Regions from separate parts of the Homo sapiens genome. Here region 2 is linked to region 1. The links come from fine-mapping of genetic effects on gene expression. Tissue or cell type: blood mononuclear cells. Region 1 holds a variant in brackets; the other region holds the start of a gene. All regions are shown on one strand. Distances are between the middles of the regions.

What was found. PIP is the estimated chance that this variant, and not a neighbour inherited with it, causes the effect.
Region 2: it holds the start of HAGH, and the variant in region 1 is fine-mapped to the expression of HAGH in blood mononuclear cells (TOPMed, PIP 0.98).

What each region holds. Positions count from the first base shown.
Region 1 is chr16:1,792,220-1,799,447 of GRCh38, reverse strand. It overlaps IGFALS (insulin like growth factor binding protein acid labile subunit), which reads left to right and starts at 5,743. Exons shown (of 2, transcript NM_004970.3): 1 at 5,743-5,811; 2 at 7,047-7,228. The coding sequence starts at 5,796. The variant G/A (reference allele first, on the strand shown) is at 4,908.
Region 2 is chr16:1,823,422-1,830,580 of GRCh38, reverse strand. It overlaps HAGH (hydroxyacylglutathione hydrolase), which reads left to right and starts at 3,756. Exons shown (of 9, transcript NM_005326.6): 1 at 3,756-3,869. The coding sequence starts at 3,794. It overlaps FAHD1 (fumarylacetoacetate hydrolase domain containing 1), which reads right to left and starts at 3,375. Exons shown (of 1, transcript NM_031208.4): 1 at 1,671-3,375. The coding sequence starts at 3,342. The coding sequence ends at 2,677. RefSeq lists enhancers at 3,156-3,345, 6,610-6,679 and a silencer at 3,436-4,405.

The DNA of each region.
Region 1 (7,228 bases):
ACTACAATTCAAGATAAGATTTGGGTGGGGACACAGCCCAACCATATCATTCCACCTCTGGCCCCTCCTAAACCGCATGTCCTCACAATTCAAAACACAATCATGCCCTTCCAGCCATCCCCCAAAGTCTTAACTCATTCCAGCATTAACCCAAAAGTCCAAGTCCAGAGTCTCATCTGAGACAAAGCAAGTCCCTTCTGCCTATAAGCCTGTAAAATCAAAAGCCAAGTGAGTTACTTCCTAGATACAGTGGGGGTACAGGCATTGGGTAAATACACCTATTCCAAATGGGAGAAATTGGCCAAAACAAAGGGGCTACAGGCCCCAGGCAAATCTGAAATCCAACAGGGCAGTCAAATCTTAAAGCTCCAAAATGATCTCCTTTGACTCCATGTCTCACATCCAGATCACACTGATGCAAGAGCTGGGTTCCCAAGGCCTTGGGCAGCTCCACCCCTGTGGCTATGCAGGGTACAGCCCCCCTCCCAGCTGCTTTCACAGGCTTGTGACAAGTGTCTGTGGCTTTTCCAGGTCCATGGTGCAAGCTGTTGTCGGTGGATCTACCATTCTGGGGTCTGGAGGATGGTGGCCCTTTTCTCACAGCTCCACTAGGCAGTGCCCTAGTAGGGACCCTGTGGAGGGATCCAACCCCACATTTCCCTTCCGTATTGCCCTAGCAGAGGTTCTCTGTGAAGACTCTACCCCTGCAGCACACTTCTGCCTGGACATCCAGTAGTTCCTATACATCCTCTGAAATCCAGGCAGAGGTTCCTAAACCTGAATTTTTAATTTATTAATTTATTTATGTTTGAGATGGCGTCTTGCTCTGTCACCCAGGCTGGAGTGCAGTGGCATGATCTTGGCTCACTGCAACTTCTGCCTCCCAGGTTCAAGTGATTCTCCCACCTCAGCCTCCCAGGTAGCTGGGACTAGAGGCGTGCACCACCATGCTTGGCTAATTTTTGTATTTTTAGTAGGGACACGGTTTCACCATGTTGGCCAGGCTGGTCTCAAACTCCTGACCTCAGGTGATCCACTTGCCTCGGCCTCCCAAAGTGTTGGGATTACAGGCGTGAGCCATTGCACCTAGCTCCCAAACCTCAATTCTTGACTTCTGGGCATCTGCAGGCCCAATACCACATGGAAACTGCCAAGGCTTGGGGCTTGCACCCTCTGAAGCAACAGTCTGAGCTGTACCTTGGCTCCTTTAGCCATGGCTGGGAGGCAGGGCACCCGAGACTACACAAAGCAGCAAGGCCCTGGGTCTGGTCCACTAAACCATTTTTTCCTCCTAGGCCTCGGGGCCTGTGATGGGAGGGGCTGCCCTGAAGACGTCTGACATGCCCTGGAGACATTTTCCCCACTGTCTTGGTGATTAACATTTGGCTCCTTGTTATGCAAATTTCTGCAGCCAGCTTAAATTTCTCCTCAGAAAATGGGCTTTTCTGTTTTATGGCATCATCACGCTGCAAATTTTTCAGTCTTTTATGGTTGGCTTCCCTTTTAAACATAAGTTCCAATTCCAAACCATATCTTTGTGAATACATAAAACTGAATGCTTTTAACAGCATCCAGGTCACATTTTGAACAGTTTGCTGCTTAGAAATTTCTTTCACTGGCTGGGCGCAGTGGCTCATGCCTGTAATCCCAGCACTTTGGGAGGCCAAGGCGGGCAGATCACAAGGTCAGGAGATCAAGACGCTCCTGGCCAACATGGTGAGACCCTGTCTCTACTAAAAATACAAAAATTAGCTGGGTGTGACAGCGTGCTTCTGTAGTTCCAGCTACTCAGGAAGCTGAGACAGGAGAATCGCTTGAACATGGGAGGCAGTGGTTGCAGTGAGCCGAGATTGCGCCACTGCACTCCAGCCTGGGTGACAAAGTGAGACTCCATCTCAGAAAAAAAAAAAAAAATTTATTTCACTAGATGCCCTAAATCATCTCTCACAAGTTCAAAGTTCCACAAATCTCTAGAGCAGGGGCAACATGCCACCAGTCTCTGCTAAAACATAGCAAGAGTCACCTTTATTCCAGTTTCCTACAAGTTCCTCTTCTCCGAGACCACCTCAGCCTGGACTTTGTTGGCCATATCACTATCAGGATTTTGGTCAAAGGCATTCAGCAAGTCTAGGAAGCGCCAGACTTTCCCACATCTTCCTGTCCTTTTCTGAGCCCTCCAAACGGTTCCAACCTCTGCCTGCTACCCAGTTCCAAAGTCACTTCCACATTTTTGGGTATCTTTACAGCAGTGTCCCACTGTAATAATAATTATTACAGTAATAATTTACTGTATTAGTCTTTTCTCATGCTGCTGATAAAGACATACCTGAGACTGGGTAATTTATAAAGGAAAGAGGTTTAATGGACTCACAGTTCCACATGGCTGGGGAGGCCTCACAATCATGGCGGAAGGCAGAGGGTCTTACACGGCGGCAGGCAAGAGAGCGTCTGCAGGGGAACTCCCATTTATAAAACCATCAGGTCTCAGCCAGGCGCAGTGGCTCACGCCTGTAATCCCAGCACTTTGGGAGGCTGAGGCGGGTGGATCACGAGGTCAGGAGATCGAGACCATCGTGGTTAACACGGTGAAACCCCATCTCTACTGAAAATACAAAAAATTAGCCGGGCGTAGTGGTGGGCACCTGTAGTCCCAGCTATTTGGGAGGCTGAGGCAGGAGAATGGCATGAACCTGGAAGGTGGAGCTTGCCGTGAGCCGAGATTGTGCCACTGCACTCCAGCCTGGGAGACAGAGCAAGACTCCATCTCAAACAAACACACAAAAAACAAAAACAACCATCAGGTCTCATGAGAGTTACTACCACAACAGTATGGGGAAAACTGCCCCCTGATTGAGTTGTTTCCACCTGTCCCTGCCCTTGACACATGGGAATTATTACAGTTCAAGGTGAGATTTGGGTGGGGATGTGAGGCCAAACCAAATCATCTTTGTTGTTGGTATCTGAGGAATCAACCTCAACATTTAAGGGATATCATCTCAATTAAAATTAAGAACTCTCGCCGGCCCGGTGGCTCACGCTTGTAATCCCAGAGCTTTGGGAGGCCAAGGCAGGCAAATCACCTGAGGTCAGGAGTTTGAGACCAGCCTGACTAACATGGAGAAACCCTGTCTCTACTAAAAATACAAAATTAGGGGCTGGGCACGGTGGCTCACACCTGTAATCCCAGCACTTTGGGAGGCCGAGGCCGGCAAATCACCCGAGGTCGGGAGTTTGAGACCAGCTTGGCCAACATGGTGAAACCCTGTCTCTACTAAAAATACAAAACATTAGCCAGGCGTGGTGGCTCATGCCTGTAATCCCAGCTACTTGGGAGGCTGAGGCAGAAGACTCGCTTGAACATGGGAGGTGGAGGTTGCAGTGAGCGGAGATCACACCACTGGACTCCAGCCCTGGTAACAGACTGAGACTCCATCTCAAAAAATAAATAAATAAAATAAAATAAAAATTAGCCAGGTGTGGTGGTTCATGCCTATAATCCCAGCTACTTGGGAGGCTGAGGCAGGAGAACTGCTTGAACCCAGGAGGCAGAGGTTGCAGTGAGCTGAGATCGCACCATTACACTCCAGCCTGGGCAACGAGCAAAACTCCATCTCAAAAAAAAAAAAAAAAAAAAAACTCACCAGAATCCTAACGAGAGGACAGAAAGGCCACACACCTGAGTGTGCGTGCTGAATGCTTTTGTTTTTTCTTGTATCTTGCAAATCAGAAATCAGCCAGCTAACTAGAAAATCGGCAAGAGACCGAAACCAGCAGTGGCTGAGGCCAGATGACCCTGTGGCTGTGTGCTGGACAAGATGCTCGGTCTCCCAGGTGATGGCCACCGTCCACTCGCCACTGGCCTGAGTGTAGACAGGTATGCACCCACAGGATGCAGAGCCACAGGGCTCGGTGGCATTGCTGGAAACAGTGAGAAGGACAGGGACAGATGTATTCCAGGACGTGACCTAGACATGGCCTCACCTCCCTCGGGTCCTGTCCTACAGAAAGCCAGGCCCTGTGCGGCCTGAAGACAGGCAGAATGCGGCTCATGGAGGAGCCTGGGAGGCCACCGGCCTTGAGCTGGGAGAGGCCACGGGGAGTGGGGCCATTGGGGGTGGCGGCAGTGATGGGGGCCTCTGGAACTCAATGGGCTGAATGTGTGTGTAGGCCTCTGCGTTACCACAGGAATCAAAGAGGCCTGGAGCCCCCTTACGCGGCTGCCGCAACCCTGGTGAGGCTCTGCCCGCCCGCGACACCCGGCCCCTCCCAAAGGAAGAGAACAGGGACAGATTCTCCCTTCCCACCTGGAATGTGTGGGGCTCCCAGGTGGGGTGCGCGGCCTGACGGAGGCCGGGGCCCCCACGGGGACCTCTCCTGAGAGGAGGCCGCCCGGGTCTGCTGGCCTCAGGCCCCAGGCCCCTGCTGAGTCTGCGTTTTCTGCTGAGTAAACGGATCGTGGGTCTTTCTGGGTGTGGACTTTCTCCCCGTGGATCTATAATTTCTCAGAAGAGGAGCCGAGACGCCACCTGGAAAATGATCAATTCTCGATAAAGGGAAGACGATGACAGTGGGCCGGCGGCTTCCCACAGCTCTGCACGGGGCCTGCCAGGTGAGGCCGGAGCTGAGGATGGGGTAGGGCCCTGGAAAACTGTGGTCTCCCCGAGCCCTGGCTGTGCCCCCGCCTGCACCCCTTCCGGCTGCTTCCCTGCACACTTTCCCACTGCCGAGGGACTGGTGGGCAGGCCCCACTGACAGCCAGGGGAGGGGCCTGCAGGGACCTGGAGGGGAGGGGCTGCACCTGCTCAGGCCCTGGGGGAGAGAGCGACTGGTTGGGAAGTGGTTTGAGCAGGTGGAGGGGAACCAGGGGCCTCTGGAGGCAGGTGGAGACGGAGCCCAGGGGTGGCCTT[G/A]GACATGGCTGGGCACACATTCCTGTGGCCTCTCTGCACACAAGCGGTGACTGTGGGGCGGCCAGGCCCTCACCAGAGCCTTGGGGGACAGCAAGGGGCAGGTGAGGCTTGTCTGAGGCACAAGACCTGGCTCCCATGGCCAGGCCACCCCCACACACTCCCCGAGGATGGCGCAGGGCAAAAGCAAACAGGCGCCTGCAGCCCTGCCAGGCATTCCTAGAAGAGGCTGGGGGCGGGGCAGTGGCCAGACACCAGCGCCCCTGGGGTCACGGGAGAGGCAGGGTGAGCTTGGGCCCTGGACAGCACCGTGGGCCTGAAGCCCAAACGGCAGCTCCCACCCAGGCTGTAGGGAACCCCCGGGAGGGCGGGTGGATGGCTGGGTGGGGCACGGGGAAGGGGCGGCAGCCCCTTAGCCCCACACGGCTGGCTACTCAGGCCAGGGGTGGGCTCAAGACCCCAGGAGCTGCCCGAGGAGCCCCCTGCCCGCAACAGGACCTGGTAAAACCCTGGGCTCCCCAAACCGGCCTCAAGCCCCAGCCCCTCCCAGGCTGCTGCAAGGGGTCCCCACCCCAACCTGGCTGCCCAGCCCTCCCCAGTCAGCCCTGCAGGGGGCCCGGGCACTGGCCGTCAGCCCCCAGGGCCGCATTACGGCTACCTCGGGCCCCGACTGAAGCTCCCTCACCCCCTGCACTGTCTGCACCCCAGGGCTCCGGGCTGATGCCGGCCGCCCGGCACGAGGGGGTTAACAGAGCCAGGGCCAGCTGGGTTGGGCCAGCCAGGTGACAGGCGCGGGCTGCCCCGCAGTGGGGAAATCCAGAGGGCAGGGGTGGCCGGCACAGCAGACGTACCCTCCCTCGCTGCCTGCCTGCAGCCTGCCCTGCATGCAGGATGGCCCTGAGGAAAGGTGAGGCCCCCGAGTGCCCCGCCACCCACTCTAGGGGTGGCCAGTCTGTGACCCTGAGCCCGCTGGGGAGAGGCCGGGGTAGCCCCCAAGGAAGCTCTGGGGGGCTCAGCTCTGGGGGTCTGCGGGGGACTCTGGGGAGCCCACAGTCGGAAATGCGGCTGCTGGGGTTGGCAGGGGGACACAGCTGTGCCTGGCACCAGGGGTCTCTGTCCCGTCCTCCACCCTAAGGGCGCTGGCGGCGGCACAGGGGAGGAGGGCCAGGTGCAGGCCGGACCCTTCAGCTCCCAGCACAGCGGCGGGAAGTGCCCCGCACGGCCCGCGTTGTGGGCCCGGCCCAGGCAGGAGACGTTGGCTCACACCCCATTGTCTCTGTGGGGTGACCCCTTGCAGCTTCGGCCACCCCCAAGCCTGAGCTGAGCTCCAGAGCTGGCTCAGGCCACTCCCAACCCATCGTGACAGAAGGGCAGTCGGGGGGGCCCCACCTCGCCCCTGCCACCATCCCAGCAATTCCACACTCTCTGAGGATGGGGGGGCCATACAGTAGAGGTTTTGGGTCATCGCTGCTTGGGAGCCTGCTGGCTGGGTCTGTGGGGCCTGTGGCCCCTTGTCCTGAAAGGCAATGTGAGCTTTGGTGGCCGACGGTCCAGGGTTCCTACCTGTCCCCCGACGGCGGTGCCCCGGTCCCCTCCCGCAGCACCCGACCAAGGCCTGGATGCAGGCAGGTGAGACCCCGCTGGGGGGCCTAACTGGGGCAGGAGGTGCCCAGCTCCCTGTCCAGCCTCTGAGGGCAGTGAGCGAGTGCCCACCAAGACCTGCTGCAGAATATTCTGAAAATGGCCGGACCTTGGCCAATGGCTCAGTTCCCTCCCCTTCCTCTAGGCCAACGTGGCAGACTGGCCTGGCTCAAGCGCCTGCCTTGGGGGTGCGGCTGCCACATGGCCAGACAGCCCGAGACCCAGCCTGGCCGAGCCCACGTGGCCTGCGCACAGCTGGAGAGCCAAGCCCTGAGCGTCTGTGCAGCGGGGCGGGGCGGCCACTCCTCTGTCCCATGGGGTGGGAAGCGCAGTGTCAGCTTTTGAGCCGGAGGACCTGTGGGGCTCACCGGCTTCTTCGCATCTCAGCGGGTGACCTCGAGCCTCAGTTCACACCTGAGCGCCGCTTCCGGCTGTGCTGGTATCAGGCTCACTCGGGCAGAGCCCTCCTCGGGCCGCCTCCCCAAGCCTCTCCCCCCGCAGGAGGCCTGGCCCTGGCGCTGCTGCTGCTGTCCTGGGTGGCACTGGGCCCCCGCAGCCTGGAGGGAGCAGACCCCGGAACGCCGGGGGAAGCCGAGGGCCCAGCGTGCCCGGCCGCCTGTGTCTGCAGCTACGATGACGACGCGGATGAGCTCAGCGTCTTCTGCAGCTCCAGGAACCTCACG
Region 2 (7,159 bases), 31 kb before region 1:
ACCACTGTGGTGAACACTGACCCCAGGGGCACTGTACTCGGTGCTGGCTTGTGCCACCTACTAGGGCTGCATGTGAGCACTGCTTCTACTTTATAACTTTGACTTTAATAGTCTGTCAACTTGGTAGCTATATCTCAGCTGAACCGTGTACCTGGTAGCAGACTAATAATACACTTCCAGCATGAGCACGCCCTTTGATCCAACTCTTCCACTTATGGGAACCTAGCCAAAGGAAAAAACAGCACATGTGCTGATACTAGCAAATCATTAGAGACAATCTCAAGGTCCAAAAATGGAGGCTTGACTTCAGAATCTTATGCAATCCATGAAAGTTGTACTGCAGAAATGTGTCAGCTAACAAGGAAAAAGATGGTCACAATATACAGTGAAATAAGCAAGTTAAATAATTGTATGGTATAGCTGGGCACGGTGGCTCATGCCTGTAATCCCAGCACTTTGGGACGCCCAGGCGGGTGGATCACTTGAGGTCAGGAGTTCGAGACCAGCTTGACCAACATGGTGAAACCCTGTCTCTACTAAAAATACAAAATTAGCCGGGTGTGGTGGCGTATGCCTGTAATCTGAGCTACTTGGGAGGCTGAGGCAGGAGAATCACTTGAACCTGGGAGGCAGAGGTTGCAGTGAGCCGAGATTGTGCCACTGCACTCCAGCCTGGGCAAAAAGAGTTAAACGCCATCTCAAAAAGAAAAAAGAAAGAAAGAAAAAAAAGAAAATTGTATGGTATGAGCAAACTCTATTTAAAAAATTACAATTATATCCACAGACTTGGAAGAACTTGCAATAAATGCTTAACTTTGGCTGTCTCTGGGTAGATGAAATTTTTGGTGTTTTGTTCTAATTGCTAATCTCTATTTTCTGACTCTTCTGTAATTACATGCATTGCCAAGCAATGAAAAAATAATACTAAAAGTAGTTAAGATAGCATGATACTTAATAAAGAAATCCAATTATGGCACTTCCTCATACTATATTATAATTTAAGCATGGGGTTGCAGCATACCTAAGTGTCTGATTCTTCTTATGTATCTACTTACAAGATGCAGCCTGCATTGTGGTCAAAACTTCACGTTCTGGTCTTGGGGGAGCTGGGTTACATCTCGGCTCTGCCACTAAGCTGAGTGACTTTAGCCAGCCTTCGCAGCCTCTAGATCTGTCTTCATCTGAGTAATGGGGATGGTAGTGATCATACTAAGCTTATGGCTTGGTTGCTGGTTACATAACACGTGGAAATACAGAATAAACTGCTTGGCATGGTGCCTAACAGTACTGTGTTCAATACATGGGGACCGTTACTACTCAATCAGATGTCCTAGGCTTTCTTCAGGGGCCAGCAGATGATGTGAACGCGAACAGGAACCCCTGCCGAAGCCCAAAGGACTCCTCCAGGCATTGACAGCTATGCTGTGCATCTTGCCTGGATGTTTTTTCAGAGGAGGGTGCAGGCAAGAGCAAAAGCAGCAGTCCCAGGCTATTCAACTTCCACAAAGCCTCCTTATCTCCGGTTGGGAAGTACAGTTGCTGATTAACTGTGTTAACACAGCACAGTGCTCAGAAGGCCAAAGGTCAAAGACTAAGGTCTGAAGCCCCACAAGGAGGAAATATCCCTCCTCGTCATTACTGGGGGGAAAAAAATTACCCTTGTAAGCCACTTAGAAGGGAGCACCTTTATTTGGAAAACAGTAATTTCAAAATCATCTCCCGAACTCAGAATCGATGGGTCTGGGTAGATACCCTAAGTAAACAGGTGAAATCTTCATTACTTGTTCACTTATTAAGTAAAATTTTAAATTAACCGATTATGTACAGGAGTGTTTTTCACATTTCCTGATAAGAATCACTTGGAATGCCCTGTAAACACAGCTTCACTGGAGATTAATCCTATCAAATTGATTCAGCAAGTCCGAGATGGGCCAGTAATTTGTGGAGATTTTTATTTTTACAAATGCTTCCTGATGATGACCAAATCTAAGAAAATTTGGTAAACAACGGAAAGTTATCTGGAACATAACTTTCAGTTTTCTCTGCAGTTTTTAAGTGCTGAACTACTGATCATCCTAGAGATAACCCACTGAAAAGTCTTCTCTAATCCAGTTTTACAAAAGGAAAGTCTTTTTAACATTTGGTTTGATAAAATGTTTTCCGAAGAAATACTTTACTTGCCTGTTTTCATTTCTGGCCCACCCGTTCTACTTCACGTTTTCTTGAAGGGTTCATCTTCTATGAGTTGAGGCATAGCAATCTAATCATTTTTAAAATAAATGGTTTCTTTTTTTTTTTTTTTTTTTGAGACGGAGTCTCGCTGTTGCCCAGGAGTACAGTGGCGCAATCTCAGCTCACTGTAAGCTCCGCCTCCCGGGTTCAATTGATTCTCCTGCCTCAGCCTCCAGAGTAGCTGGGACTACAGGCGCCCGCCACCACGCCCGGCTAATTTTTTGTATTTTTAGTAGAGACGGGGTTTCACCCTGTTAGCCAAGATGGTCTGGATCTCCTGACGTCGTGAGCCGCCCGCCTCGGCCTCCCAAAGTGCTGCGATTACAGGCGTGAGCCACCGCGTCCGGCCAATAAATGGTTTCTAATTAAAGGATTGTGACATTTAATAGCCGTTGCTTGCTCTTGTCTTGCTCCCTTCTCTCTCGAAACTTGTTAAGAAATAACTCAATATTCTGGCTTTTCCACTTTAAATGTCATACTGACCAGCCCGTGTATGCCAGCCTCGATCTCATCGTTTTCTTTAACCGGTCCAACTCCCTTTGGCGTCCCAGTCAAGATAATATCTCCTTCTTCCAAGGTTATGATCTTAGAAACATAGCTGATGATGTAGGGGATGGAAAAAATCATGGAGGATGTCTCACCCTCCTGTCTGAGTTCGCCGTTGACCTTGAGCCAGAGCTTCAGCTTGTGAGGGTCAGGGATCTTCTCCTTGGGCACGAACGCGCTGACCGGGCAGGACGCCGTGAAGCTCTTCGCCAGAGTCCAGGGCAGCCCCTTCTTCTTGCACTCGTCCTGCACGTCCCGGGCGGTCATATCCAGGCACAGGGCATAGCCGCCCACGTAGTCCATGGCCGCAGCCTCGGGGACTGCGCGGCAGCGCTTGCCCATCACCACGCCCAGCTCCAGCTCGTGGTGCAGGTTGCGAGTGTACGCGGGCATGAGGATGGGCGAGCCCTCGGGCGCGTAGGCCGTGGACGGCTTCAGGAACAGCACGGGCTCGCTCAACACCGCGCTGCGCATCTCCCTGACGTGGTCCGCGTAGTTCCTCCCCACGCAGACGATGTTCTTTCCCCACTCCCAGAAGCGGGACAATGGCCTGGATGCTGCCATGATTCCCATCAAGTGCCCCTGTAGTCACGTGGGCTGGGCCGGTCAGCTGATGCCTACGGCATCCCGGAGAGGACCAACTGCCTCGGAACGCTGTCCCCCGCAGCGACGGCCCGTTCCACCTCGCGATCTGCCGGGTACCCGGGCGGCGTGGCGCTCGGCCTCCAGGGATCCACTGTGCGGTGCCAAAAAAGAGGCGGAGGCTCGCGGCACAGCTCTCCCGGCGCAGCTCTCGGGCCGCCGCCGCCGCTCCCAGGCCCGTCTCCCGGCCCGTGGCAGTCGGGGCTCGCGGACAAAACAAGTTGAGCGCGAGCGCGTTGATTGGTTGGCGGACGGTGCGAGGTGGACGCTGATTGGCTGAGGGCAGCGCGAGGCGGGCGCTGATTGGCTGCGACGCGCCGACGCCGGTGTTTTGCAGTCCTGGGCAGCTCGGCAGTCCAGCCCGGCCCGGGTCATGGTGGTGGGCCGAGGGCTGCTCGGCCGCCGCAGCCTCGCCGCGCTGGGAGCCGCCTGCGCCCGCCGAGGCCTCGGTGGGTGCGGCGGGGCGGTGCGGGCCGGGGGACGCGGGCCTGGCGGGGCGGGCAGCGGGCGGCGCCGGGCCGTCGTTTGGCGACCGCTGACGCGGTGTCTGTTGCGCAGGTGCCTAAGGCCGCGCTGCCGGGCTCGAGCGGAGGCGGCGCAGGCGCTGAGGCTGGCGCGGAGCGGGCGCGGGGCCGCGGGTGCGGAAAGCGCTAGGTAAGCAGGGCCAGGCCTGCGTCCGCCGCGGCCTCCACGCTCGGGCTGGGCCGGCCGCGCCCCTGACGCCTCCAGGGCATCGCGTCCTGCCCGGGCCGGCGCCGAGGAGAGCCTGGGGCGCGGCTCTGAGGCGCAGCGGGCAGGGCCCCGGGACGCCTGGCCCACCCCGCACCTGCTGCCCCGCTGCAAGGACCGCGGTCTCGCGGCGCCGCCTGCGGTGGTGGAGCTGCCCGCCCGGCGCCGGAGCCCCCGTCTGGGGACCCGGCGTGTCATTCGCCCGAGGTGGTCGCGCGGCCGGGCCAGGCCAGCGCCCCGGGCGGGTGCGCAGCGCAGGGCACTGGGCGGGCGGAGGCGCAGACAGGGAGGCGTCCCTGGCGGTTTCCAGATCTCGCCGAAAGCTGTCAAGGCTCTGCAGGGGGTAGAATGTCGCCATTGCTAAGGAAAGGACATGGATTTTGAGGTCCTCAGAATTACAGTTTTAGGGACATTCATAAGGGTCCAGGCAGAGAGTTCCAGCGGGACTGTGTGCATCGGCAGGGCGTGCGTACCCCATTCTAAGGGAGGCCCCAGCCCCCGTATTTGGTGCCGCCCAGTTCAAGGGAAGCAAGATGCTGTGAAACTTCCTGATTTAAAAAAGAAGTGCAGTGACGCACGCCTGTCATCCCAGCACTTTGGGAGGCCGAGGCGGGAGGATCGCTTGAGTCCAGGAGTTCCAGACCAGCCTGGCAACATGTTGAGACCTCATCGCTACAAAAACTAAACAAAATCAGCCGGGCGTGGTGGCACACAACTGTAGTCTCAGTCACTTTGGAGGCTGAGGTGGGAGGATCGCTTGAGTCCAGGAGGTCGAGGCTGCAGTGACCCTTGATCGCACCACTGCACTGTAGCCTAGGGGACAGAGTGAGACCATATCTCAATTTTTTTTTGTTTTTGGGGCCAAACCGAACATGTTTCTGGACTTGGTCCAGGCCCCAGGCTGCAGGTCCTTGACCTGTTTGTACAAAGTATTACAGTTACAAAACAGCAAGCCGGGAACATTTGCCAGGCAGTGCTGGGCTGAGTGATATGGAAAGGGAATACGGTTTCTGCTGGTGTTGGCACCAGCTGCGTCTTTCCTCAGAAATAAAGGCACCTCCCTGGGTTGTCAGCTTCTTCAGGAGGCTGTGATGGTCTCCAGGGGAGGCTGAGCACCAGTTGTAAATGACATTTTCTTCGCCTGGGCAGTGCAGTGGCCAATCTCGGCTCACTGCAACCTCTGCCTCCCGGGCTCAAGCGAGTCTCCTGCCTCAGCCTCCTGAGTAGCTGGGACTACAGGCGCTCGCCACCACGCCCAGCTAATTTTTGTATTTTTTAGTAGAGACAGGGTTTCACCATATTGGTCAGGCTGGTCTCGAACTCCTGACCCCGCGATCCGCCCGCCTCGGCCTCCCAAAGTGCTGGGATGACAGGCGTGAGCCACCGCACGTGGGCAGTATTTTTGTTTGTAATGTTCTGCTCCTTGTTTGTAATGGAGCTCCTTTCCAGGAGGACGCCCGGCACTCGGAATCCTGTCACAACCCTTCTGCACCCCACCTGCAGCCCCCAGCACCCACACTCTGCTTGTTGTGCTCCTTGGGCTGGGGTGGTGCTGAGGCTAAGGGGAAGGGGAATAACACAGGAAGCTGCTCATATAGAAATCTTGGTATTATTGTTCCTGAGGAGAATGATCTGGAAAATGCCCAGCTGGTTGTCAGGCGGGTAATAGGATATCTTTGTGCAGTGATTGAAACTATAGTTTGGGCAGTTTCCCCGGCTGTGGAAATAAGGTCGGATTCCGCATTTCGGTGGGCCCTGGAGACGCGTGTGTCTGTCAGTTGGTGGCTGCTGCCCATTTCTGGATCCCTTTTGGGAGAAGCCCCTGCCGTGGCACCTACCCCAGGACTGCACTGTCCTCTGCCACCTTCTGTGGTTTCTTCCCCGTGTAGAGCGGAACTGAAGGTATTGTCGGGGCCCCCAGGTATTTTTAGATTTAGTAGGAGTTTCATTGCTGAAAATATTTTTGCATTGGTCGACTGGGTGGCAGACACTTTTGTCCCTTGGTCACCCACTCCTCCCAGCTCTTGGGCCTTCTGGGCCCCTGTGGCAGAGTCCTTTGGGTCAGTTGGATGGTGGTTTTGTGTCCTCCACACTTGAATCTGGGGGCAGTTGTGGCCAACTTTCCGTCTCAAAGGAACTGCTGATTTTTGTGCATATCTCAGATTCGTGCTGTTCAAGAGCAAGTATTGTTTGTTTGTTTTTTTTTTTTTTTGAGACTGTCTCACTCTGTTGCCCAGGCTGGAGTGCAGTAGGGCGATCTTGGCTCACTGAAACTTTCACCTCCCGGATTCAAGCAATTCTCCTGCCTCAGCCTGCCGTCAAGTATTGGTTCTTTCTGGCTAGAGGCTGAGAAGGGCTGTAACTGCATGGAACGCAGGCTCGCTTAGTCAGTGGTGGCAGCACAGCTTGCTGGAGGGCAGATGGCCAGGCGGGGGCACCCCTAGTCTGTGTTCCCTTCTTCACATTCTGTCCCTGAGTCCGGGGTGTGAATAATCCAGCACTGGCAGTGGTTCGCCTCACAATCACAAGCTGGCCTTCCTGTCCTTTTAGAGTTCTCAAAAAAGAAAATAGAGATCGTAAGTCTGAAACAATTGATTTCCATGAATGTGAGCATGAGTTAGTTCCTGTGTTCTCCTCAGGGATATATGAAGATATTCCTTTTTTTTTTTTTTTTTTTTTTTTTTTTTAAGGAACAGGTTATTGTCTTGTCACCCAGGCTGGAGTGCAGTGGCACAGTCATAGCTCACTGCAGCCTCAAACTCCTGGGCTCAAGTGATCCTCCTGCCTCAGCCTCCGGAGTAGCTGGGACCACAGGCATGCACCACCATGCCTGGCTAATTTTTAAATTTGCAAAGACAAGGTCTTGGCTGGTCGCGGTGGCTCACACCTGTCATCCCAGCACTTTGGGAGGCCGAGGTGGGCGGATCACAAGGTCAGGAGATCGAGACCATCCTGGCTAACACCATGAAACCCGTCTCTACTAAAAAATACAAAAAATTAGCCGGGTATG